2 separate regions of the Homo sapiens genome follow, and region 1 is linked to region 2. Evidence: fine-mapped expression QTL. A gene starts in region 2. The other region holds a variant in brackets. All regions are shown on one strand. Distances are between the middles of the regions. Region 1 overlaps TGFBR3 (transforming growth factor beta receptor 3). Region 2 holds the start of TGFBR3 (transforming growth factor beta receptor 3).

Evidence for each region. PIP is the estimated chance that this variant, and not a neighbour inherited with it, causes the effect.
Region 1: its variant is fine-mapped to the expression of TGFBR3 in whole blood (INTERVAL, PIP above 0.99).

What each region holds. Positions count from the first base shown.
Region 1 is chr1:91,677,577-91,689,345 of GRCh38, reverse strand. TGFBR3 (transforming growth factor beta receptor 3) reads left to right here. Exons shown (of 17, transcript NM_003243.5): 17 at 5,489-9,003. The coding sequence ends at 5,607. Among named protein-coding and RNA genes, the nearest start is that of CDC7, 180 kb to the right of the region's middle. RefSeq lists enhancers at 4,528-4,607, 5,087-5,590. The variant C/T (reference allele first, on the strand shown) is at 4,845.
Region 2 is chr1:91,880,279-91,892,047 of GRCh38, reverse strand. It overlaps TGFBR3 (transforming growth factor beta receptor 3), which reads left to right and starts at 5,897. Exons shown (of 17, transcript NM_003243.5): 1 at 5,897-6,170. RefSeq lists silencers at 5,631-5,770, 6,121-6,200, 6,211-6,420 and enhancers at 5,563-6,325, 6,326-7,089.

The DNA.
Region 1 (11,769 bases), 200 kb after region 2:
GATTGGCTCAGGCAGAAACCCAGCTACAGGCACACATGCCAACCTTTAGGAAAGCAATGACCTGATGAACTGTGTCAGAAAAATGGAGAACTGACAAGGGAAGTCTCACTGGAGAAAGAAGAAGTGTTTCTAATCTGAAGAATTAAGTTTTCTATTAACCTTTTATGGAAACTGAGGGGAGGGTGAGAAGAAGGGGGAAGGGTATGAATGGCCAGATGCTCCGGGAGGTGCTTTGTTTTTTGAGAGAAAAAGACACACCAATAGACACCAGGAAAGCCGAAGGCATTCATCTTAACCTCTGTGTTTAATGGTTTTATAAAATAATGATATGGGCATTTGAGTGAAAAGAGAGTGGAGCCTGCCTTCTTTACAGTCACATTGGGGTTTCCGTCTGTTCCAGCTGCATCTGTCTGATCCCTGGGACTTGGTCTCTTGCCTCCTACCTTATCACACCTTAGTCTGTCTGCTTGCTGTTTCTCTTTTCATCGGGCTACACTTGGGAACCTGGAGAAACCTCAGGCCTCTGAACACATTGGCACCTCCCGAGCTACTTCTAATGAAAACCTCTTACCTGACTTGGGTGGACTTTTGGGTATGCGCTTGACTTTTGCTTTAAGAACACATGGTGTGTTCCATGGAGGGTTGTTGAAAACTGCCTGATGAGTTGGGACGGGCACACCTAATTCAAAACTTCAGCATTTTATTATGCTCTGTGAAACAGTGTTCCTTACACGCTTAGATTTTTTTTCTGCTTACACATCAGAGCAGCCTTAAAGTTGAAAAAGCTTTTATTACGCATTTCTTGTTTTAAGTACGCTCACCCTAATAACCCTGTGAAGTAGTGATTATCTCTGTGTTGACTAAAGGGAAACACAACTAATATACCTACTAAGGTAGCAAGTCTAGCCATTGAACAAACCAGAGCTTCAAGTCCAGTTTCTGACTCAGGGTTGTAGCGATAGCTGTGGAGGACAGCCTTCCTCCTCCACCTGATTTCTCTTTCCCTCTTGCTTTTCTTCTTCTTCTTAGTTATTATCAGATTTTGCATCCTATTCAGGGGCCACAAAGGCAGGGAAGATACCACAGAAAACCAAAGTCCATATACAAACAGGTTGGCCACACTGCAGGAATATAGAAAGAAAGTAGTAGGCAGGACATTGTGAAAAACTTTAATTCTTGATATAGTCTTTTCCCCGTGACTTCTAACAACATCTAACTCACCCCTCCTGGAGAATTTTGCTGCAAAAGAAGAGTCTTTTGTGTGGAGGCTGGGGAGGAATGAAATTTGAAAATGATAAAAAGTGATTGAAGACTTCTCTAAATTAAAGGTAGTATCGTTCACTCTGCTTAAAGAGTGAGCTTGTGAATTAATTACAGTTAGGAGATCAAGAAACTGAGACATTAATTGATAGAAAATCGCATCCAACACGTAGATCTAGAAGAAAATATCTTTATTTTCTTTCTAGCATCAAGGAATATTAAATCTAAAGTGTCCCCAGGTATATGGTTTTCAATCCTGTGCTTAAATATCTCCTGAGAAGGAGATTCCATAAATTCCCTCTATAACTAACCAATCCTCATAATCAGCAAGTTCTTTTCTATCTGATCTAAATCCCTAGTCCTGCCATTTAAACTCATTTCCTCATGTTCTGCCCTCCAGGGAGATAAAGAACAGCTGTCTGCTCCTATTTGTAATAATCCTCATGGAGAGTATTTGCAATAGTCTCCTTTGGCCTAAATACCAAGCTTGCCCTCACCTTTCTTTTTAACTCTTCTCTTGTTTCCCCACAGAGTCCTCCCATGCTATTCACATCTTTCTTGAATAGTTTCTTCCCCAGGACCTGCCATGGTGAAAGACTTAGAAATAAGAATACAGTTGTAATATAGACGCCAAAGAGGTAGCAGGAAGTCAGATCTGGGCAACTCCATGCCATGCTAAAGAAATAAAACATTCTCCATTAAGAAATGTTTTTTGTTTGTTTGTTTTTGCTTCTTTTTTTCTTCTTCCCCCTGGTAGAGACAGGGTCTCTCTCTGTTGCCCAGGTTGGAGTGCAGAGGCTCTTCACAGGTGAGATCATAGCTCACTGCAGTCTCTAACTCCTGGCCTCAGGAGATCCTCCCCCTTCAGCCTCCTAAGCTGGCACTGTAAGTGACTGCACCTGGCTTTGTTTTTCTATTTCTTGAGGCATCTCTGGCAGTATCTAGGCCCAGCCATAGGCTAACTGTGAGATGGGTGGAATTAATCCTTAGTGTCCTTATCCTCAGTGTACTCTCCTCCTCCAGAGTATGTCAGGCACCAAATTCCTCTCTCCCCTACTCACTCTCCCTCCTCTCAAATCTCTGTTCCCTCAATGTGGTTTGATATTTTAGGAGGAAAGCAGGAAGACTGAGTACATTTCCTCTGCTGGCCAAGTCTGATATTTATTTACAAGCAAGGCGCCCTCCTTGAATTTCTTAGATGTGTTAATTGGGCCTAGTCTGCTTAGCCACGAGGTCCTCCCTGCCCATCTCCTTTAGGAGCAGCCTTGTTATACTTGTCACCCAAGGGATGTTTTAGAGAAAGTTGGTGCTCCACGAAATCAGAGACCACTGCAGTGGAGAGCAGACAGCCAAAGACCCATCTCAGAAAACCCAGGGGTCTCTGTTGGCCCATTAAGTAGAAGCATCTGTACATTCAACTTTCTTCCTCATGGTGAATTTTTCTGTAGCATCACTTCCATTTGACAGTGAAAAAACTTAATCTGTCAAAAGGTAAGAGTTATTTTTAAAACATGGTTATATTGAGAAACCTTGCATCTTACATGTGAAAATAGCCACAGAACTGGAAAGGATGGTCTGAAGAGGGGACTTTCAATATTTCCCAGCAGATTCTCAGACAGAGACTCACCTTGGCCCATTATTGGATCAAAGTCAATATAATATTAGGTTAACTTGACTTATCCAGCTGGTGAGATGCATCCTGCAGTCTTGAGTGCGGAGGCTTCTTTGTTTTGTTTGGGGTTTTGTTTTGAAGTGTTTTGCATTACCAGAACAAGAGTTCCCAAAACTCGGGAAGTTGAAAGGTCTCTTTAATGGGCACGGATGAAAATAAACTGACATGGCAACAAATTATATTTGGCAAATAGACATCGGAAAGCAGATATTCAGGCTTCCTGGGCAGGGCATAGTCCTGGCACTTTTCCTGAATGTGAATAATCAAGCACAGGGCAGATCCTGGAGGAGCACACTTGCTCCCTATTGCTTGATGAAGCAAGGCCTTCTCTTTTACCTGCTGTTGGGCTGAGCAAACAAAGCCCAGGTGAGCCAAAAAAGAAAAAGATGGAGTTGGCCTCCTGCTTTTCAGATGTATCCTTATTAAAATAGGAAAAAATATTTTTAAAATGTGGTTCATGCATAGCCACATTAGTCCTTCTGATTGATTATGTGAGGATCCAGCTGGGTATGGACCAACATGTGGTTTGTAAGGGAGTCAAATTCTTAAAGTATATCTAGAGTTGTTTGGGTCTCTGGAGGTTGTTTTTGTTTTGACCTCAGAATAGTTAAGAGATTTGATTCCCTTCTAGAAATAAAGCTCCTACTCTGGGGAAAGTGAATTTTTGGCAGAAAGTTATTGCCATGGAGGCTAATTTCCCCAGCCTTAATTATACACACACATGAAGAGTAGAGGGCAGTGCTGGGGAGGGTCCAAAACATAGGTTTCCAAAAAAGTCAAAAGCAGTGTTTCAGCCGGGCGTGGTGGCTCACGCCTGTAATCCCAGCACTATGGAAGGCCAAGGTGGGCCGATCACGAGGTCAGGAGATCGATACCATCCTGGCTAACACAGTGAAATCGTGTCTCTACTAAAAATACAAAAAATTAGCCAGGCATGGTGGCACATGCCTGTAGTCCCAGGTACTCGGGAGGCTGAGACAGGAGAATTGCTTGAACCCGGGGGGTGGAGGTTGCAGTGAGCCAAGATCATGCCACTGCAGTCCATCCTAGGGGACAGAGCGAGACTCCGTCTCACAAAAAAAAAAAAAAAAAAAAAAAGGCAGTGCTTCTCCGCTTCTCAGGAATATTGACCCCAGTCCCCTATCCATCCCGCCAATCCCAGAAGAAAAGATAATTAGAGGAAGTACAACAAGGGCCAAACTTACAACAAGCACATAAATACTTTGAGGTTGATGCAAAAGTGTGTATAGCTGTGTGGTTCATGAAAGGGGTGACAGGAAAAGCTGTAACCAGACCCAGGGACATGAGCCAGTTCTACATTTTGCAGAACTGCTTTTTTCACAGAGGCTTTTGAGGGGCCCCAGAAAGAGAATGGAAGTAATGGGGCCAAGTTCCTGCACTGGAGGGCAGGGCCTTTCCTCGAGTGTTTTGTTTTAATGAAGCAGCTGGAAGGGTTGCTTATCTCCGGCTGATAGATGTGTATTTCAGCATGACAGGAAAGAGGAGGCTCATTCATAAACAGGCCTGGCCCTCTGGGGTTTCCCACATTGAAGGAGGGGATGCTGCTTACAAGAAGTTTATGAAGTTTATGCTCTGACTTTTCAAAGTAAATGCAGTGTTTTTTATTGGAGAGCCCTGATCGCTTTTCCCTACCTAGAGCCATTTTTTGAGGGTTGCACTGAGGCCGGTTTTGCCGAAGAGAAGACTAACTCTAGGGCCTTTTGCACTGTTAAATGCAAACCATGTGTGTGACTTGAGGTTTCCTTCCTCTCCAAAGCACTGCACATTTGGCACGATGAATGGCTTTAGCTAAAATGCAGTGGGGTGTGTAATGAAAAGTGGGATGCTTAAAGTGTTAGGAGATACTCACACTGCACCCCACAGGGAACCTCAGTGGGGAAGAGAGGCCATT[C/T]GCTGGCAACTGCAGTCCCCATGTGCAAACAGCTAAACCCCTTCCCCAAAAGGTTTTTCCAATAGCAGCTATCCCCCACCCCGGTTTCTCAGGTAATTTATCTGTTTGGCACACAAGGCTCTCTCTACTGTAGCTAGGACAAAGTCTATATTTCACTCCTGTTTTTAACAAGTGCATTCAGAACAAGGCTCCCAAACTTCCAGGGTTCTCTTAACTACAATTGAAAGGTCACACCCTCCAAATCCTACAGTGTCTTTATGAGAGAAGATGGACAGTGTTTCCTGAATACAGGTGCTGGTCAGTTGCCAGCTCACACAGACCAAGTGGTGGTGATTTCATCAAAGGTTGTGGACCCTGAAATCCAGGGACTTTGTCATCAACTCTCAGGGGTCTTAGCCACTAGAGCTGCCTGTCAGTCAGCTGTCTTCTTTTTCCCATTCATGATGCTTTAAAAATAAAACAACAAATAGCAAAACCTTATTTTAGAAGGTATTCCAGCCATCTAGGACCTAGTCTAGTTGCTTCTGCCCTGGTTGAGAAAAATATCAGTTAAAATGGCAAATGCGGAATAAATGATCTTTTCAGGAATGCACATACATAATATGCGTCTTTCTCTGACTCTGCCTTTTCTTTATTAACTGCAGGGGAGACAGCAGGAAGGCAGCAAGTCCCCACCTCCCCGCCAGCCTCGGAAAACAGCAGTGCTGCCCACAGCATCGGCAGCACGCAGAGCACGCCTTGCTCCAGCAGCAGCACGGCCTAGCCCAACCCAGCCCAACCCGGCCCAACCCAGCCCAGCCCAGCTCAGCTCAGCTACTGCCAAGGGCAGGACCAATGGCTGAGCCTCGTGTCCAGACTCAGAGGGCTGGATTTTGGTTCCCTTGTAAAGACAGAGTGAATTTCAGTATAAAGATCACCCGTTGTATTCACCCCACACCCAGGGCTAGTATAAACATGACCCTGGGCTTCTGTACCACACTAGAATTCATGTGAGAAAGCTAAAATGGTGGTCTTCTCCACCAGCCCCTCACAGGCTTGGGGGTTTTCAATGTGAAACACATGCCAGTTTTTAAAATGCTGCTTTGTCCAGGTGAGAACATCCATAATTTGGGGCCCTGAGTTTTACCCAGACTCAAGGAGTTGGTAAAGGGTTAATAGCCAGATAGTAGAACCAGTGAGGAGATGCGGCCAAAGATTCTTTATATCTGAACCAAGATGTAAAACAAGAAATGCTTTGAGGCTTTCTAAGCGATCCTCCTGTCTAATTTGCACCTTTGTCTGGATGCACACTTCTGACCTTGCTGCCACAACCTGTGGGGTCTGATGTGTCCCTTGATGGGTGCTGCCCTCAGGGACTGCACCCTGACAAGTGTTAAGGCAACATTCCTTTCTTGTGCCCTGGGCCAAAACCAATGCTGATGACCTTATCAGCTTCCTGTTTCTTCCCATACTTGCATACACCACTGCAAAATGTCTTAATGCAAATTTTGTATTTCTTACAGGCCTACAGAAATTGAAAATGACCAAAATCAGGAACCACAGATTTGTGCCCATTCCTAATATTTTGTTCTGCAAATTAATGTATAATTTGAGGTGAAATTCAGTTATAAAGTCAAGGACGAATTTGCACAGTGATATATTTCTATGTGTATGCAAGTACAAGTATATAATATGTCACCTGGCACATTCATTTTCTCAGTTGAAGAAGAGAAAATTTGAAAATGTCCTTATGCTTTTAGAGTTGCAACTTAAGTATATTTGGTAGGGTGAGTGTTTCCACTCAAAATATGTCAACTTAAAAAAAAATAGGCCCTTTCATAAAAACCAAACTGTAGCAAGATGCAAATGCATGGCAAATCCTGTCGGTCTCCAGTTGGTTATCTGAATAGTGTCACCAATTCCACCAAGACAGTGCTGAGATTGGAAAAGGGCACTCATTTGGATTGCCTTACTTCTCTTGCCTTAAATATATCCCATATATTTAATATGTCAAAAAGGGCTTGAGGTGAATTTCATTAAATGGAATAATATGATGCCACTTTGCAGCTAAAATAAGCTCAGTGATACCTCCTTGTTAAAAAAAAAAAAAAAAAAAAAGAATGCCAGGGGGGAATTATCATGCTAAATTATTTTACTGCTGAAGATAGCTTCATTGCAAATTATTCTTTTTCCAGAATTTCCCCCAAACAACTTAGAATTCCATAAGTAGAACAAGATAGATTCTACCCCCAAAATATTCATAAGCAAATCCCACTGCCCTTAAAATAAGGAAGTTATGCCTGGTTGTCTGTGAATGGAACCTCAGTAGGTAATCCTGATGAAGCTTAAAACCTTAGGGCAGTGTCTACATGGGAAACAAGTATGTGGAAATTGACAATCATTTTTACCAAATCGTTGAGTAATAATATGACTTACCTGATAGATATACACATTCAATAAGGAACATTTTTTTTTTTCAATAAGGAACATTTTAACTAAAACATTACTTTAGGGCTGAGATTTCCAGGCTATCTACATTGATCTACTGAAAAATTTCTAGATTTCCATATACAAACGAAGAAGACATGAGTTTAGAGAATTTTTTTCCTTTAATTTTTTTTTAACAGAAGGGTATCAGAGTGGAGGACCTAGATTACGCTACCTGTGTTTGAAAATATTGCGCTTTGCCTAACCTTCGGTGGAATGTATTGTTTCAGCATATTCTATGTATAAAAAAGTTTAAAGATGTCTTCAAAGAAGACTAGAGTCTTTAAGTCACTTATAGCTATATTTTACTACAAAATTTGTGTATAAAGATATATTTAAGTGTTTTAGATAAATTTAAGTTACTCCATATGAAATGTTTAATTTCAGCTACTGTGAATTCTTTCGATCAGTCCTTTGCTTTTTTAAAAAATCTTTTCCATCGTGTTAAAAAGAAAATTAGCTATTAGGAGATATTAAAAGATTGATGTCTTAGAAGGACAGGGTTAAAACCTTCTGTAATATATTTAAATATATATTTTTAAGAGAGATGCTACATTGCCAATGATTTTATAAATAATTTAAAATTAATTTACAAATTTATAGATGCAAACCAAAAGATCTTTTTAAAAGAGAGAGAGAGGAAAAAAATCACCTTTTATTTGTTTGGGTCTCATTGTCAGAATTATTATTCAGATCAAGAAATCTGTGTCGATAAAACCTAATCTCATATTGGAGAGTGAATGTCGTTAAGTATTTCTGAAATGTTTCTAAAAAATGAACATGAAAAAAATAAGGTATTTTCTCCCTAGCTTCTCATTACAGTATTTCTAATTGCTTCACACTTTACAGTTTTAATACAAAGTACAAGCTCTACTTTTATAACGTGTACTACAAGTTTCTTTAAAAGTATTGTTGTATTTCAGCTGAACTCTTGTATCTGCAGTCTTTTGTTATTTCTGCAGGCTACACCCTTAATTTGCAGAGGCCATTTTGTTGTTTGTTTGATGCTGAAGCTGTTGTTAAAATGCCCCAAACTCCAAGGCAGATTGTCTGTATAATACGCTATAGCTTTTCACCATGTGGTGTTTACCAGCTGTTACTCTGTATTTTAAAAAGCCAGAGATTTCTTCTGTCTAAACTGTTTCTATAGCATTTTCTAAACAAAAAAAATGGTTTTTTTCTTTGCCTTGTAATAAGATTGTAAATCCATTTCCTGCTTGTGTTCTTAGTGGGCATGATTGTGAGTGTGTGTGGGGTGCTCACACGCGTGCCAGTCTTTTTGTACTGTAACTACCTCATGGTTTGAATGATGATTGTACTGCTGGTTGTGTTAACAGAGCACATTTTGTTGGGTGAGTCCTATGTGATTTTTTTCATGTTTGTTTTATCTGGGGGTTGTTCATGAAACTGACAGATGTTTTTCTAAAAAGGACTATTATCAGTTTCCAAATACAATACTTCTCTCTTCTGGTTTTTCCTGAATGAGCCTGATTTTGTTGCTGGTTTTCATCATCTATGAGGGTAAAACGAGTACCCTTAAAATCCCTGTGGCCAGTTTGAACACCCCTGTTGTATTCTTTTCTCTGTTCAGTGTGTCAGCTATTTTGTGAAGATGCTTAGATGTATAGTTTTGATAACCACAGTTTTAAATCTTTTATCTGTGCATAATAAAAAGATATATATCAGTTATTAATATGTGTCTTGTTATCATTAAATTCTACCCTAAGGCTCATGTAACTTTTTTCACTGTGACTTTCTCCTGAATGGATCGTCTGCTCCGTGTTGATGAGGAAGTGGGAGGAGAAAGGCTAAGAGGTCCAGAGCAGAGGGAAGGGCGGATGGACTAGAAGAAGAGTGCAGCAGGAGCTGTCGCTCTTCTCAGAAAAACATGGCAGGAGACTTGGAAGTGGGTGTCTCACCCTGGAAACCATTCCTGGGCCTTCTGTCAATCTCCCAGAGTCAAAGAAAGAAACATAATATACATTTAAGGTCTACTATTTTCAGCCCCTTCAAATACCCCATTGCTGCTTCCAGCATTCCGTATCTCCATATGGTACCACCGTCTTCCAGTTGTCCAAGCCAGAAACCTGGGAATCTAACTACAGCCTCTTTGGCTCCCCTCTTCCCAAATCAATAAGTCCGAGTGTTATTCTACCTCTAAAATGTCTCTTTCTTCAAACCACTGACTTATTCCTACTCTGACTGTTGTTACACACTGCTCAAGAGCCATTGTCTCTTGAGTCACTGCAGCAGCCTCCTAACTGGTATGCCGACTTTCCATTTTGCTCCCTTCAATTCTTTCTCCACCATGCAGCCAAAGTAATCCTAAAAAGACTCCATTTTGAGGCCTTTAGGTAATTGCCCCATTTGCCTTCAGGATACAGTTCAGATTCCTAAGCATGGTTCCGAGGAGGCTAATCTGCCTGCTTTCCCAGCTACTTCTCTCACCTCTCCGGAGCTCAGTTCTATTTGGCATCCTCACCCCCAGACAAATTTGTAATGAAAAAAGTTCTCGTTCAGTATCAAATATTACATTACAGCATTGAATATGCATTTACAGGCCACACTCCCCTTTTGAGATTTTTAGTGACTCAGATGATTTGGCATCAAGGCCAGCAGCCCATCCCTCACATGTTACACAGGTGGGTACCCACAGAGCCGGAACAGTGTTAAGCTCCATTTTACAGCTACGGTGCCCCCTGCAACCAGCTCCTCTTAGGATATGTGGGAGTAATTGGCAGGTCAATGAATTTTTTTTGCCATTAAACTCTCCTTGTGTCTACTGGAGTCAAAACCTGGGTGATTAATAAATGGGCTTCAGAGAGTCTGTGAAGTGGCTGGAATTGTATGTAGGATTTTATTGCAGCTATGTCTCGGCTGTTGTTTTTGGTGAGAGTCCATAGGCTTTTTGTAAGAAAAAATTATCTTTCTTGTTCACACAATATATATATATAAAATGAATGCAAAGAATACAGACATGTAGCAATGAAAAGGCCTCCATAATCCTCCAACTTGAATATAAGAATACCGATTTAGTGTATGTGTTCCCAGATGTTTCCTTAATTCATATCAACATGTCCATGTCATTAAATAAGATTGGATTATGGCCCGGTGCAGTGGCTCATGCCTGTAATCCCAGTACTTTGGGAGGCCAAGGTGGGTGGATCACTTGGGGTAAGGAGTTCGAGACCAGCCTGGCCAACATAGTGAAACCCTGTCTCTACTAAAAATACAAAAATTAGCGGGGCGGGGTGGCATGCGTCTGTATCCCAGCTACTCAGAAGGCTGAGACACGAGAATCTTTGAACCCAGGAGGTGGAGATTCCAGTGAGTTGAGATCATGTCACCGCACTCCAGCCTGGGTGACAGAGGAAGGCCCTGTCTCAAAAAAAAAAAAAAAAAAAAATTGGATTATAACAGTTGTGACTTGCTTTTTTCTTTTTTCTTTTTTTTTTTTTTTTTTTTGAGACAGGGTCTCATTGTGTCACCCAAAGCTAATTTTTATATTTTCAGTAGAGATGGGGTTTCTACTAAACCCAAGGCAAATTTTTATATTTTTAGTAGAGAAAAGGTTTCACCATGTTGGCCAGGCTGGTCTCGAACTCCTAACTTCAAGTGATCCACCCATCTCGGCCTCCCAAAGTGCTGGGATTACAGGCGTGAGCCACCACGCCCAGCCTGTGACTTGCTTTTTTCATATGGCATATCTTTCTCAGGGCTCCTAAGATGACTGCTGATCATCATCATTTTCTTATTAGGCTTAACTTAAATTGCCCAAATAAAAATATGGTTCTCATAGGAAGTGAAATACAAAGATATTTGTTAACGCTACCCTTCCTACTCCCTCCAGTCACTTACCTAGAGGAGCTGATGTTAACAGCCTTTTTTCAAACTCAAACATATTGAAACGTGTTCATGAATATAGAAGTTTTTGTTTCGTTTACTAAAAATGGGATCACAATATACATACTCTGCAACTTGCCTTTTTCACTTAACATCGACCTCCTGTAGATTATTAGATACGGAACAAATTTCATGTTTTTTGGTGGCTGCATAATATTTTTTACAATGAATTCAGCCAATTCACTAGTAATGACATTTTAGTTTTTTGCCAAGATATTCTGCTGCAGTTAATATCCTTATATATTATGTTCTCACACTCCAATGCTTTAAAGCAAAAAAAAAAAAAAAAGTGACAGAATTATAAAAATTATAAAGAGGAAAAAGAGGAACTGACAAATTCATCACAGTAGGATATTTTAACATATCACTCTCAGAAGTTGACAAGTCAAAAATATTTGGATATGGAAGATTTGAACAATGTAATTAAGCTTGATTAAGATCCATACATAGAATCCTGTGTCCCCCCAATTTGACAATTTTGTATATACCACTCCTGGAACTATAATGGCATTCTCAGCAAATATCACAAAATTTAATCATACTGATCAGGTTACTT
Region 2 (11,769 bases):
CCAAAATCTCTGTGGAATTCCCCAGATCTGAAGCCAGTGCCTGCTTTGGACTCTGCTCTGCATACAGGTTCATCTGATTGTATTTTTTCTCATTAATTGAAATTTGCCAGCTGCAATTTTATCAGCGAAAACCAAATTCTAATCTCGTAGATAGATATAGAAAATGTGGCTTTAAATTATGGCCTTAGGTTATGATGAAATAAAACACCAACGAGTATGAACTGGGTCTTTATGAGCGAATCTGAAAAATAAAGTAGTAAATCTGTCTGTGATAATAGGTTAACAGAGCAGAAAATAAGGGCAGATACTGTAGTTTGTAGATCAGCATCCTGTCACAACAATTTTGGAACATTTGGTTCATGTTCTGTCACACATTCTTAAGAGTAGTTGTGCAATTGCCTCCAAGCTGTTGGCTGTATTAGACAAACTTTAAATTAGTGAAAGGAATCTATTTTTATGTGGTGGTGGTGGGGTAATAGTTCTTCTAAACAAACTTTCATTTTTATCTTTTGAAAGTTTTTAAAGAATCGAGTTTTTTTTTTTTTTCTTTGAGACAGATCTCAGTTCTGTTGCCCAGGCTGGAGTACAGTGGCACGATCACGGCTCACTGCAGCCTCAACCTACCGGGCTCAAGTGATCCTCCCACCTCAGCCTCCCAAGTAGCTGGGACTACAGGCACATACCCTCACGCCTAGCTAATTTTTGTATTTTTTGTAGAGACTGGGTTTCACCACATTGCCTAGGCTGGTCTCGAAATCCTGGGCTCAAGTGATTCACCTCGGCCTCCCAAGTACTGGGATTACAGGCCTGAGCCACTGTACTTAGCCTTTGAAGTAAACTTAAAAAAAAAAAAAAGAGAGACCAGGCTCAGTGACTCACACCTGTAATCCCAGCACTTTGGGAGGCCGAGGCAGCTGGATCACAGAGCTCGAGACCAGCCTGGCCAACATGGTGAAACCCCATCTCTACTAAAAATACAAAAATTAGCCAGGCGTGGTGGTAGGCACCTGTATTCCCAGCTACTTAGGAGGTGGAGGCAGGAAAATCGCTTGAACTCAGGAGGCAGAGGTTGCAGTGAACCAAGACTGCACCACTGCACTCTAGCCTGGGTGACAGTGCAAGACTCCGTTTCAAAAAAAAAAAAGGAAATATGAGACTCTCTTTTTATGAGTAGAAGGTGTCTTTCACCTGTAGCACAAAGTGGAGGTTCAGAGCATGAACGGATTCTGTAGCCAGGCCACCTGACTCTGCCACTTGCTGGTTGTGTGACCTTGGGCAAGTTACATAACCTCTCTGTGCATCATTTCCTAATCTGTAAAATGAGGATAATAGCTGGGCACAGTAGCTCATGCCTGTAATCCCAGCACCTTGGGAGGCTGAGGCAGGTGGATCACGAGGTCAGGAGTTTGAGACCAGCCTGGCCAATATGGTGAAACCTTGTCTCTACTAAAAATACAAAAATTAGCAGGGCGTGGTGGCGTGTGCCTTTAGTCCCAGCTACTCGGGAAGCTGAGGCAGAAGAATCACTTGAACCCAGGAGGTGGAGGTTGCAGTGAGCCAAGATGGCGCCACTGCACTCCGGCCTGGGCAACAAGACGGAAACTGTGTCTCAAAAAAAAAAAAAAAAAAAAAAAAAAAGATTATAGAGAAACAACCAAATGATTTTTCTAATGATAAAGTCTTTTAGACTTTATCTGATTAAAGAAAGTCTGATTAGCAGACTGTGAACTGCTAATCAACAGAATCTGGAGACATGCCACTAAATCTGAGTCACTGTCAACATGTGAGTCCACACCTACAGGAGGGGTGGTTCCTTGTATGAAAAACAGCCTCAGTAAATCACTGAAACTCTGCTGGCAAACATTTTTAATGCAAGTAATGCACCTCAATTTCACCCCCCTGCTTACAATCCTGTTTGAAACAATTCCAAACAAATGACCAAGAAACCACTTTGGACCAAAAGAAAGCTGGTATCTTACAGTAACAAATACTGTAGCTTGAATGCAGTTCTCCATGAGAAATTAGTGAAAGGGAGCATCCATTCCCTTAGAAATCAGTTAATATTGCCATTAATAAGAGGTTGGGCAACTGGGCACGGCAGCTCACGCCTGTAATCCCAACACTGTGGGAGGCCAAGGTGGGTGGATCACTTGAGGTCAGGAGTTATGGCAAAACCCTGTCTCTACTGAAAATACAAATATCAACCAGGCATGGTGGTGGGTGCTGGTAATCCCAGCTACTTGAGAGGCTGAGGCATGAGAATCACTTGAACCTGGGAGGTGGGGGTGGGGGTTGCAGTGAGCTGAGATCGCGCTGCTGCACTCTAGTCTGGGCAACAAGAGGGAAACTCCGTCTCAAAAAAGAAAGAAAGAAAGAAAAGAGGTAGGGGAACCCTTTTTTATAGAGCTTTGCTCAGGAACCAAAAATTCAAGTTTATTTTAAACCTTTCGTCTATGCTTGAGGTATCTGGATTTCTGCTTTTAATATCATATTGTAAAGATTTAAAGAGAAAACATCTCTGTAGACATTGTTAATTTTGTAAATACTGATGTAATTTCTTGTGTTTTTCCATATCATCTACTGAAACTAAATAGCTCAGAATTAAAAAAAAGAGCCCTTTTATTTTGCCAGTCTATAAAGCTTCTGATGACAGGTAGAAGAACCTGGTGGTTAAGGACTTAGGTTTTGAGGTCGGTGGATGTGAGATTGAATCGTGGACAGGTTTTGAGGTCGGTGGATGTGAGATTGAATCGTGGACAAGATCTCAGTTTGTATAAAGGCATGTATATCGGCCTCATTTATACATATTCTTAGAGGGCTGTGAGAAGTAAATGTGTTTATATGTATAGAATTTAGTACCCATGGCCAGGCGCAGTGGCTCATGCCTGTAATCTCAGCAGTTTGGGAGGCCAAGGCGGGTGGATCACTTGAGGTCAGGAGTTCGAGAGCAGCCTGGCCAACATGGTATGAAACCCCGTCTCTACTAAAAATACAAAAATTAGCCAGGCATGGTGGTGCGTGCTTGTCAATCCCAGCTACTCAGGAGGCTGAGGCAGGAGAATTGCTTGAGCCCAGGAGGCAGAGGTTGCAGTGAGCTGAGATTGCGCCACTGCACTCCAGCCTCGGCAGCAGAGCGAGACTCTGTCTCAAAACAAAAACAAACAAACAAAAAAGAATTCAGTACCCACGCTGGCTCAGATGTTGATGGTTACTGTTGTGAATCTGGCTCTACGGGGACCAGTCACTTCATCACTCTTTAAAGACAAGACACTCCTAAATTATCTACCAGGCCATTTTATTTAGAAGGCCTTAACATGATTGATACATTTAATTTAATTTTATTTTTTTGAGACAGAGTGTTGCTCTTGTCCAGGCTAGAGTGCAATGGCACCATCTCAGCTCACTGCAACCTCTGCCTCCTGGGTTCAAACGATTCTCTTGCCTCAGCCTCCCAAGTAGCTGGGATTACAGGTGCCCGCCACCATGCCTGGCTAATTTTTGTATTTTAGTTGAGATGGGGTTTCACCATGTTGGTCAGGCTGGTCTAGAACTCCTGACCTCAAGTGATCCACCCACCTCGGCTTCCCAAATTGCTGAGATTATAGGCATGAGCCACCTCACCTGGCCGATGCATTTAAATGTGGGATTAAATATTCACACCTAGTTCAAGTGTTCACATCTGTACTTGAAACTAAAACTTGTTAACAAGGCATAAATACTGTATTAGTCTGTTTTCATGCTGCTGATAAAGACATACCCGAGACTGGGCAATTTACAAAGGAAAGGTTTATTGGACTTACAGTTCCACATGGCTGGGGAGACCTCACAATCATGGCAGAAGGTAAGGAGGAGCAAGTCACATATCACGTGGATGGCAGCAGGCAGAGAGAGCTGGTACACGGAGACTCCTGTTTTTAAAGCCATCAGATCTCGTGAGACTTATTCACTATCATGAGAACAGCACAGGAAAAACTCATCCCCAAGATTCAATTACCTCCCATTGGGTTCCTCCTAGGACACATGGGGATTGTGGGACTTACAATTCGAGATGAGATTTGGGTGGGGACACAGCCAAACCATATCAAATACTGTTTAATTTGAGTCTAGGAGAAATCTTAAGGCCTTAAACTTAGACTTTATAAAAGCAGAGGCTAGCTCCATCTGGACTGTTTATTCCTTCAGAATATTATGCCTACTTGTATTCCCAATGCCTGACTCAGGGCTCTCCCATAGTCAGTGCTCAATGAATATTGGTAAGGAAAAAAATGGTTCAGTGAGGAGATTTTTGCAGTAATTCAGGTGACTGATGACATTTGACCTTTGTGAATGAATCTCCAATTCTGCAATTGGGTGGATTCTCTGCCTATAGGTACAAGAGGAAGAGGACGAGAAATATTTCCTGTTCTCTCAATAACTTTCCAAATAACATGTCATAAGAAGCCTCCTCATTCTACTCTCCAACATATTAAAAGCCTAGGATTGAGCCAGGTGCAGCGGCTAACGCCTCTAATCCCAGCACTTTGGGAGGCCAAGGCAGGCGAATCTCTTGAGCTCAGGAGTTTGAGACCAGCCTGGGCAACTAAGTGAGACCCCCGCCCTGCCAACCCCCTCTACAAAAAATACAAAAAGTTAGCTGGGCGTGGTGGCATTTGTCAGTAATCCCAGCTACTCAGGAGGCTGAGGTGGGAGAATCGCTTGAGCCTGAGAAGCGGAGGTTGTAGCGAGCTGAGATTGAGATTGTGCCACTGCACTCCAGCCTGGGCGACAGGGCGAGACTCCATCTCAAAAAAAAAAAAAAAAAAAAAAAAAAAGGCATAGGTCCATAGCCCTTTAGAACTGGAAGAAGCCTTCTAGGCCAAGCCCTTCATTTGAACTGAGCCTTGACGGGTATTAGCCGTTAGCCATTTGTGGAAGGTCGCACAGTAGTCAGGACTGGAAGTCTGGTCTTTGAAACCTGTCAGTCCACGGTCATTTCACCTGCCTGTTTGTAAAACAATGTCCTGTTACTTAAGTATACTTTTTAATAAGAAAAACTGGGTGTAAGCAAGAGTATCAGAGTGGTGTTCTGGTGCCAGCAGTTCAACTTCTGCAGCGTGTACTTCACAGGCACAGGTACTTAGGACGTCGCACAGGCACAGGTACTTAGGACGTTGCCCCGCCGAGACTGTCGTTCATATCGCGCCCACCTCCGGGTAACGCCGGTAATGCTGACCTAGCTCCATTATTTGTATTAATTTATTTAGCTAGCAGGGGGAACGGCTGGGTAATGCAGTCTCAGCTGCTGGAGGGGAAGAGGCAAGACTCCGCCGGCGCCCACCATCAGAGCGTGACAACAAGCGGGACCGGAGGTTGGGAAAAAGCACAGGGACAGAATGAATGTGTGCATGGGGGAGCTCTGCTGGGGAGAGGGCAAGAGGCTGTGATCAGATTATCTGAGGTTTCAGAACTTTTATATAAAGACCAAGGAACCAAATGAAAATCCAACTCTTCCAGGGAGCCCTGGAAAGTTCAAAGGACCTCGTTTGAGGGAGCGAGTCCCCGCAGCTCGTGCCCACGTCTCCCTCGCGCTTCCCCCAGGACAGGGGCCGCCCCAACCCGGGCACGCTGAGCCCGGCCGCGCCCCTAGCCCCTTCTCTCTCGGCCTCCTCGTCCCGAAGGGAAGCACAGGCTCGAGCAGCATTCGGGGCTCATCCATCAGCCGCGGAGGCAAAGGGGGAGGAGAGAGGAGGCGGGAGGCGGGAGGCGGGAGGAGGAGTTTCTGGGCGGCCGAGAGCCCCCGGTGGGGCCGGCGGAGGAGCGCCCTTCCCCCCGCGCGCTGATTGCTGTGGCGTCCTGCCCGTCCCCGCCCGCGTGTGTGCGAGGGAGGGCGAGTGCGCCGGGTCGGCCTGATGGGGGTAATCGAGGGTTTCGGGGACGCCGAGCGGCACTTTCCTCTTCCCAGCGAGTGAAGGAGGGCAGTCGGCGGCTCTCGCGCCCCGGCCACTTTCCCTGCGCGATTCCCGGAGCTCCCTGCAGGAGGTGAGAGTCCCCAGCGGGTCCGGATGGCGTAGTTTTGCCGCGGCGCAGCAGCTGCCGGAGCTCGCCGCCGCCGAGCGCTGGGCGGGGAAACTTGCCGCCGCTTTCCTCCAACTTGCTGCGGGTGGATCTCCGCTGGACACACCGCCTCCGAGGTACGTGCCGGCCCAGCCCCGCGGCGCTGCAGCCCGCCCGGGCTGTGGGCTCTGCAGGCTGCGCGGGTGCCCGTCGGCGCGGCGCGGGCTGCCAGTGCCTACTTACCGGCCAGGGTCGCTCCAGCCGCCAGGACCTCCGGCCTTGGGAGGGAGGCGCTGGTGGGGCGGTGTTTACCCTCCGGGGAGCAGGCACCGGTGGCCAGCGGTGCGTGGGCAGCGGCCGCACGGGGCAGGCAGTGCCCCCGGCGATGCGCAGTGCTGGGGAGGAATTCTCCACGCCCGCCCTCACTCTTCCTCTCCGCGGGTCCTTCTGACCCCTGCGGGGCGCGGCGGCCACTTCCCTCCGGGCGCGTGACAGCTTCGGTGGGAATGGTTTGTTGTGGGTTCGCAGTCAATTGCCGTGGCCCAGGCTGTGGCTCCCGGACTCGTGCACGGACGCGGTTTGCGTTCCCCGCTGGCCGCGCCCTCAGGGTGCCTTGCGGGCTGAGCCGCAAGCTGCAGCTCGGCCCCCCCCCGCCCCGGTTTATTTTGAAGGCTCTCTTCTTGTATTCATTTGGTTAGGACAAACTTGGAAATCTTGGACTGTCGCTAGAAGAATCTGCTTGCAGACTTGATCTTATTAGGGCATTTGCCCCGCTTTGCAGAATCGCATAGTGTCAGGAGCCGACGTGTCAAGCATGAATTACCTTGGCAAAGTAGAACTTAGTGGATTTGGTGTCCTCACGAAAAGCTGGAAGAAGAAAACCGTTCCATTTCCCTAGCTGTGAAGTGAGGATAGTAGTACTTGCCCCGTAAAGTTGCTGTGAGCATCTAATGATTTAATGTGTGTGAGGTGCTACAACAGTGCTTGGCACCGAGTAAGCACCGCACGGAGGTTAGCGCTGCTTGCCGCTAGCCCTGCGGTGGCAGGATAGGAGCGGCGAGGGCAGAGGATAGTAGGAGTGACAGGCTGTGCTGGGGAACCAGGCGTATTCTGAGTTTTATGTCCTTCCGAAGAAGTGAGCGGTTTGGGAGAAGTCTCCACAGGTAGTAAAAACACACGTCAAGACCGTTTCTTCTTCCTGAATGCAGAGTGCAAACAGTTACTTCAGTGTGAACTCAGTTGTTTCTTTTGGATAATAATAACAGCTAACGTTTTCTAAGCCCATACTGTGTGCACTTAATCCTCACAGCATCTCTATGGGAAAAGCACTATTAATAACCCTATTTTACAGATAAGACACTAGAGGTTAAGTTACTTGTCCAAGATCATACATAACTTTCTGTTAGTTCTGACTCCAAAGCTACCTTCCTTCCTCAGCGGAGAGCGGCAAGTGCAGGCCGATTTGTGTGTACATAGATTTGTGTGCATAGTCCATGCATCTTCTCCCATCTTTCAGCTTTCTATTTGAGCTGAACGCATATCTCTTGAAACACACATAAGGTATCTGTGATGAATTTAGGCGATTTTACATACTTATGAGGGTGCCCAATTAAAGTTCCTCTGAAACTGGCCCCAAATAATTATAAATAGAACTCTGACTTGTATTAATTAACATGGAAATTTTTTTTTTTTTTTGGTGACAGAGTCTCGCTCTGTCCCCAGGCTGCAGTGCAGTGGTGCGATCTCGGCTCACTGCAACCTCCACCTCCCGGGTTCAAGAGTTTCTCCTGACTCAGCCTCCAGAGTAGCTGGGACTACAGGCGCGCGCTACCACGCCCAGCTAACTTTTGTATTTTTAGTAGAGACGGCGTTTCACCATGTTGGCCAGGATGGTCTCGATTTCTTGACCTCGTGATCCACCTGCCTCGGCCTCCCAAAGTGCTGGGATTACAGGTGTGAGCCACCACGCCTGGCCAACATGGATCTTTATTCTTAATTTCTTTTATTAATTCTCCAGACATTGTTGATCACCATTACTTGGCTTCCTTAGGAAACAGCTTGGGGTTGGCACAGGAGGCAGGGAAATAATTCTTACCCCCTTAAGGGCTATTAACATGAAATTGATTTCATGCCATTGTGTCAGTTAAAGGATGTTGCTCTATTTCTTGCTGTTCTTTGCTTTTGGCTTTATTTCTGCATTGTTTAGTGTTTCAAGGCTTGAGCGTTTTTTTTTTTTGGCCCTTCAGTTTGACATTTGTCAACTTTAATTTTTCCTGTTTTGATGGAATCTGACCGTTACACGGCAGCTTTGCCTAACAACTGTTGATTCAGCTCATGTTTTTAAATATAAAAATCACCAACATAGTTTTGAATCCCAGCACTTCAAAGGCAACCCGTGGGGAGTTCATTGTTATTTTGAATATTAGTCAATAGGGGGAGCATAACACACTGTTGATATCTATAAGGCGCATAAACCCGTTTTTAGAGTATTAAACATATAGTTTGAAAGGGGAGGGCAAAATATCTAGCAAAATAACTAAGTTGCTTTTGGAGTTTATAATGGAGGACTAGATTTAATTTGAACTGATTAAGAATGACCTTGAGGACAGGGCCTGTATGTTGAATATATGTCAAGAACTCCATGGTGGCTGGACAGATAGATAAACACACATATAGTTTTTTTTCAATTTGTTTCCTTAAGTGGTGTGTAGGCCAGGCACAGTGGCTCACACCTGTAATTCCAACACTTTGGGAGGCTGAGGTAGGAGGATCACTTGGCCAAGGAGTTCGAGACCAGCCTGGGTAACATAGTGAGACCCCCATCTCTTTAAAAAGTGAAGTTTGTATGTAAACTAATTTTGTGTGGTTTGAATAATATTTCAACTTACCTGGGAGAAATGGAAATCCAGAGGAATTTGTTGTGAATCCTTTTGTAATGATCCTCATTTGTGTTTTGTAGAAAACTGAATATAATGAATTTGTTCTCAGGGAGGTTGGTGTGTTCACAATCCTGTCATCATCTTTCATTAACATCTTCTAAGTGCAAGACAATAGGGGATCAGTAATCCTAAATAACAGCAGTTCTATTACTGTGAATTCCTCAGAGGCTTACGTTAATATTCAAGTATAGTAGTAGTTCAGATGTATCATATTTGATACTAGTATAAGTGTGATGTGTCTATGAATACTCATACTTGTAAACATAAACAATAAGAATATGCTTGAAAAAATCACACTTGACATTTATCTATTTATTTATTTATTTTTTGAGATGGAGTCTCTCGCTCTGTCGCCCGGGCGGGAGTGCAGTGGTGCAATCTCAGCTCACTGCAAGCTCCACCTCCCAGGTTCACGCCATTCTCCTGCCTCAGCCTCCCCAGCAGCTGTAACTACAGGCACTCGCCACCATGCCCGGCTAATTTTTTTGTATTTTTAGTAGAGACGGGGTTTCACCGTGTTAGCCAGGAAGGTCTCGATCTCCTGACCTTGTGATCCGCCTACCTCAGCCTCCCAAAGTGCTGGGATTACAGGCGTGAGCCACGGTGCCTGGCCAAACTTGACTTTTAAAAAAAGTTTTTGGCTGGGTGTGGTGGCTCACGCCTGTAATCCCAGCATGTTGGGAGGCCGAGGCAGGTGGATCACTTGAGGTCAGGAGTTCGAGACCAGCCTGGCCAACATGGCGAAACCTGATCTCTACAGAAAATACAACAATTTGCTGAGCGTGGTGGTGCACACCTGTAATCACAGCTACTCCAGAGGCTGAGGTGGGAGGATCCCTTGAGCCCAGGAGGTGGAGGTTTCAGTGAGCTGAGATCGTGCCACTGCACGCCAGCCTGGCAGACAGCGAGGTTCTGTCTCAAAAAAAAAAAAAAAAAAGGTTTTCAATTTTTGTCTGTAGTTTTGTAGGCCAGTTTCCTTTCTTGTTTCTTGCGTATTATGTAGTATTTTTTTATTATTTATTTATTTATTTATTTTTGAGACAAAGTTTCGCTCTGTCGTCCAGGCTGGAGTGCAGTGGAGTGATCTTGGCTCACTGCAACCTCCGCCTCCCAGGTTCAAGAGATTCTCCTGCCTCAGCCTCCCGAGTAGCGGGGACCACAGGTGCATGCCACCACGCCCGACTAATTTTTTATATTTTTCGTAGAGACGGGGCTTCACTGTGTTAGCCCCGATGGTCTTGATCTCCTGACCTCATGATCCACCCGCCTCGGCCTCCCAAAGTGCTGGGATTATAGGCGTGAGCGACTGTGCCCGGCCCCATATTATGTAGTATTGATTTACCTTTATTTCATTTACTACGTTAGGGTCCCATGGATCCTATTTTAAAATAACTTTCAAAATTAGTTGAGTCCCTTCTTTTTAAATCTTAGCATTGCGCTTATACTACAGAGTGGCATTTATTTAGGATCTCATTTAGTCTTCTATGCTTTGCTCTAGTTTACTCGAGTAATTCAACAAACACTTATAACCTCCTACTCCCTACTAGGCTATGGTTTCTGGTCTTGGAGCTTGGCAAATTAATTGTCCTTATTCAGTGCTCTGATGACTGGGGGCCAAAATGCCTTCAGGTTGCTTAGGGCTTTCTTACAGAAAGCCTTTCGTTGGCTTGAAGGAAAGTGTTGTTCCATTGTTTTTAAGACTCAAAAGAATTAATTTTTCTCTCTTGCATGCAAACTTGGTTGTGACTTGTAAAAGTCAGGTGAGTGCTTGTTTTTCTGAGGGCAGAATCTGAGCCTAAGAGCCCAGGGAACTCAACTGTCCTTTGAGTTTTAAGAAGGTGATCACTGCTGACTTCTTTAGTATATAAGTGAAGACCAATTTCCTGGCTTCAAAAATCTGTGAAAGGTCCTGACTTTACATTTTAAGCTTAACAGACAGAACAGTTAGAGTTTAGACTGTGACTGTGTAAGTAATAACTTTGCTGTAATATTTTGCCTGGATGATTCTGCTCTGTGGTCATTTTGAATTACCTCCCTTCTTGATAGTTCATTTTGAAACATCTTTTTGTGGTGCTTTCATTGCTGTTGGATAAAAATTGTAATTGTCAGATTTATTTTTTATTTTTATTTATATACTTATTCATATAAAATATGTAAATATATGTAAAATCTCACATATATATAATCTATAACTATATATTGTATAATATATAATATGTATATATTTTGAGACAGAGTCTTACTATGTTGCCTCGGCTGGTCTCGAACTCCTGGGCTCAAGTGATCCTCCTGCCTCATCTTCTCAAATTGTTGGGATTACAGGCATGAGCCACTGCTCCTGGCTGTCAGATTTATTAGCTACTAAAGGACAGTCTTCTTTTTCAGTCTTAACAGTTACTTAAAAGTGATTTTATTGCCATTTCCATCAGTCTACTGGAGCATTTTTCTTATATTTTTATTTTTATTTTTATTTTTTTTGGGACGGAGTCTCGCTCTGTCACCCAGGGTGGAGTGCAGTGGCGCGATCTCGGCTCACTGCAAGCTCCGCCTCCCTGGTTCACGCCATTCTCTTGCCTCAGTCTCCCGAGTAGCTGAGACTACAGGCGCCCGCCACCACGCCCAGCTAATTTTTGTATTTTTAGTAGAGACAGGGTTTCACCGTGTTAGCTAGGATGGTCTCAATCTCCTGACCTCGTGATCCGCCGTCTTGGCCTCCCAACGTGCTGGGATTACAGGTGTGAGCCATCGCGCCCGGCCATATTTTTAAACTTATTTAAAACAATTGTAAATTTAAAAA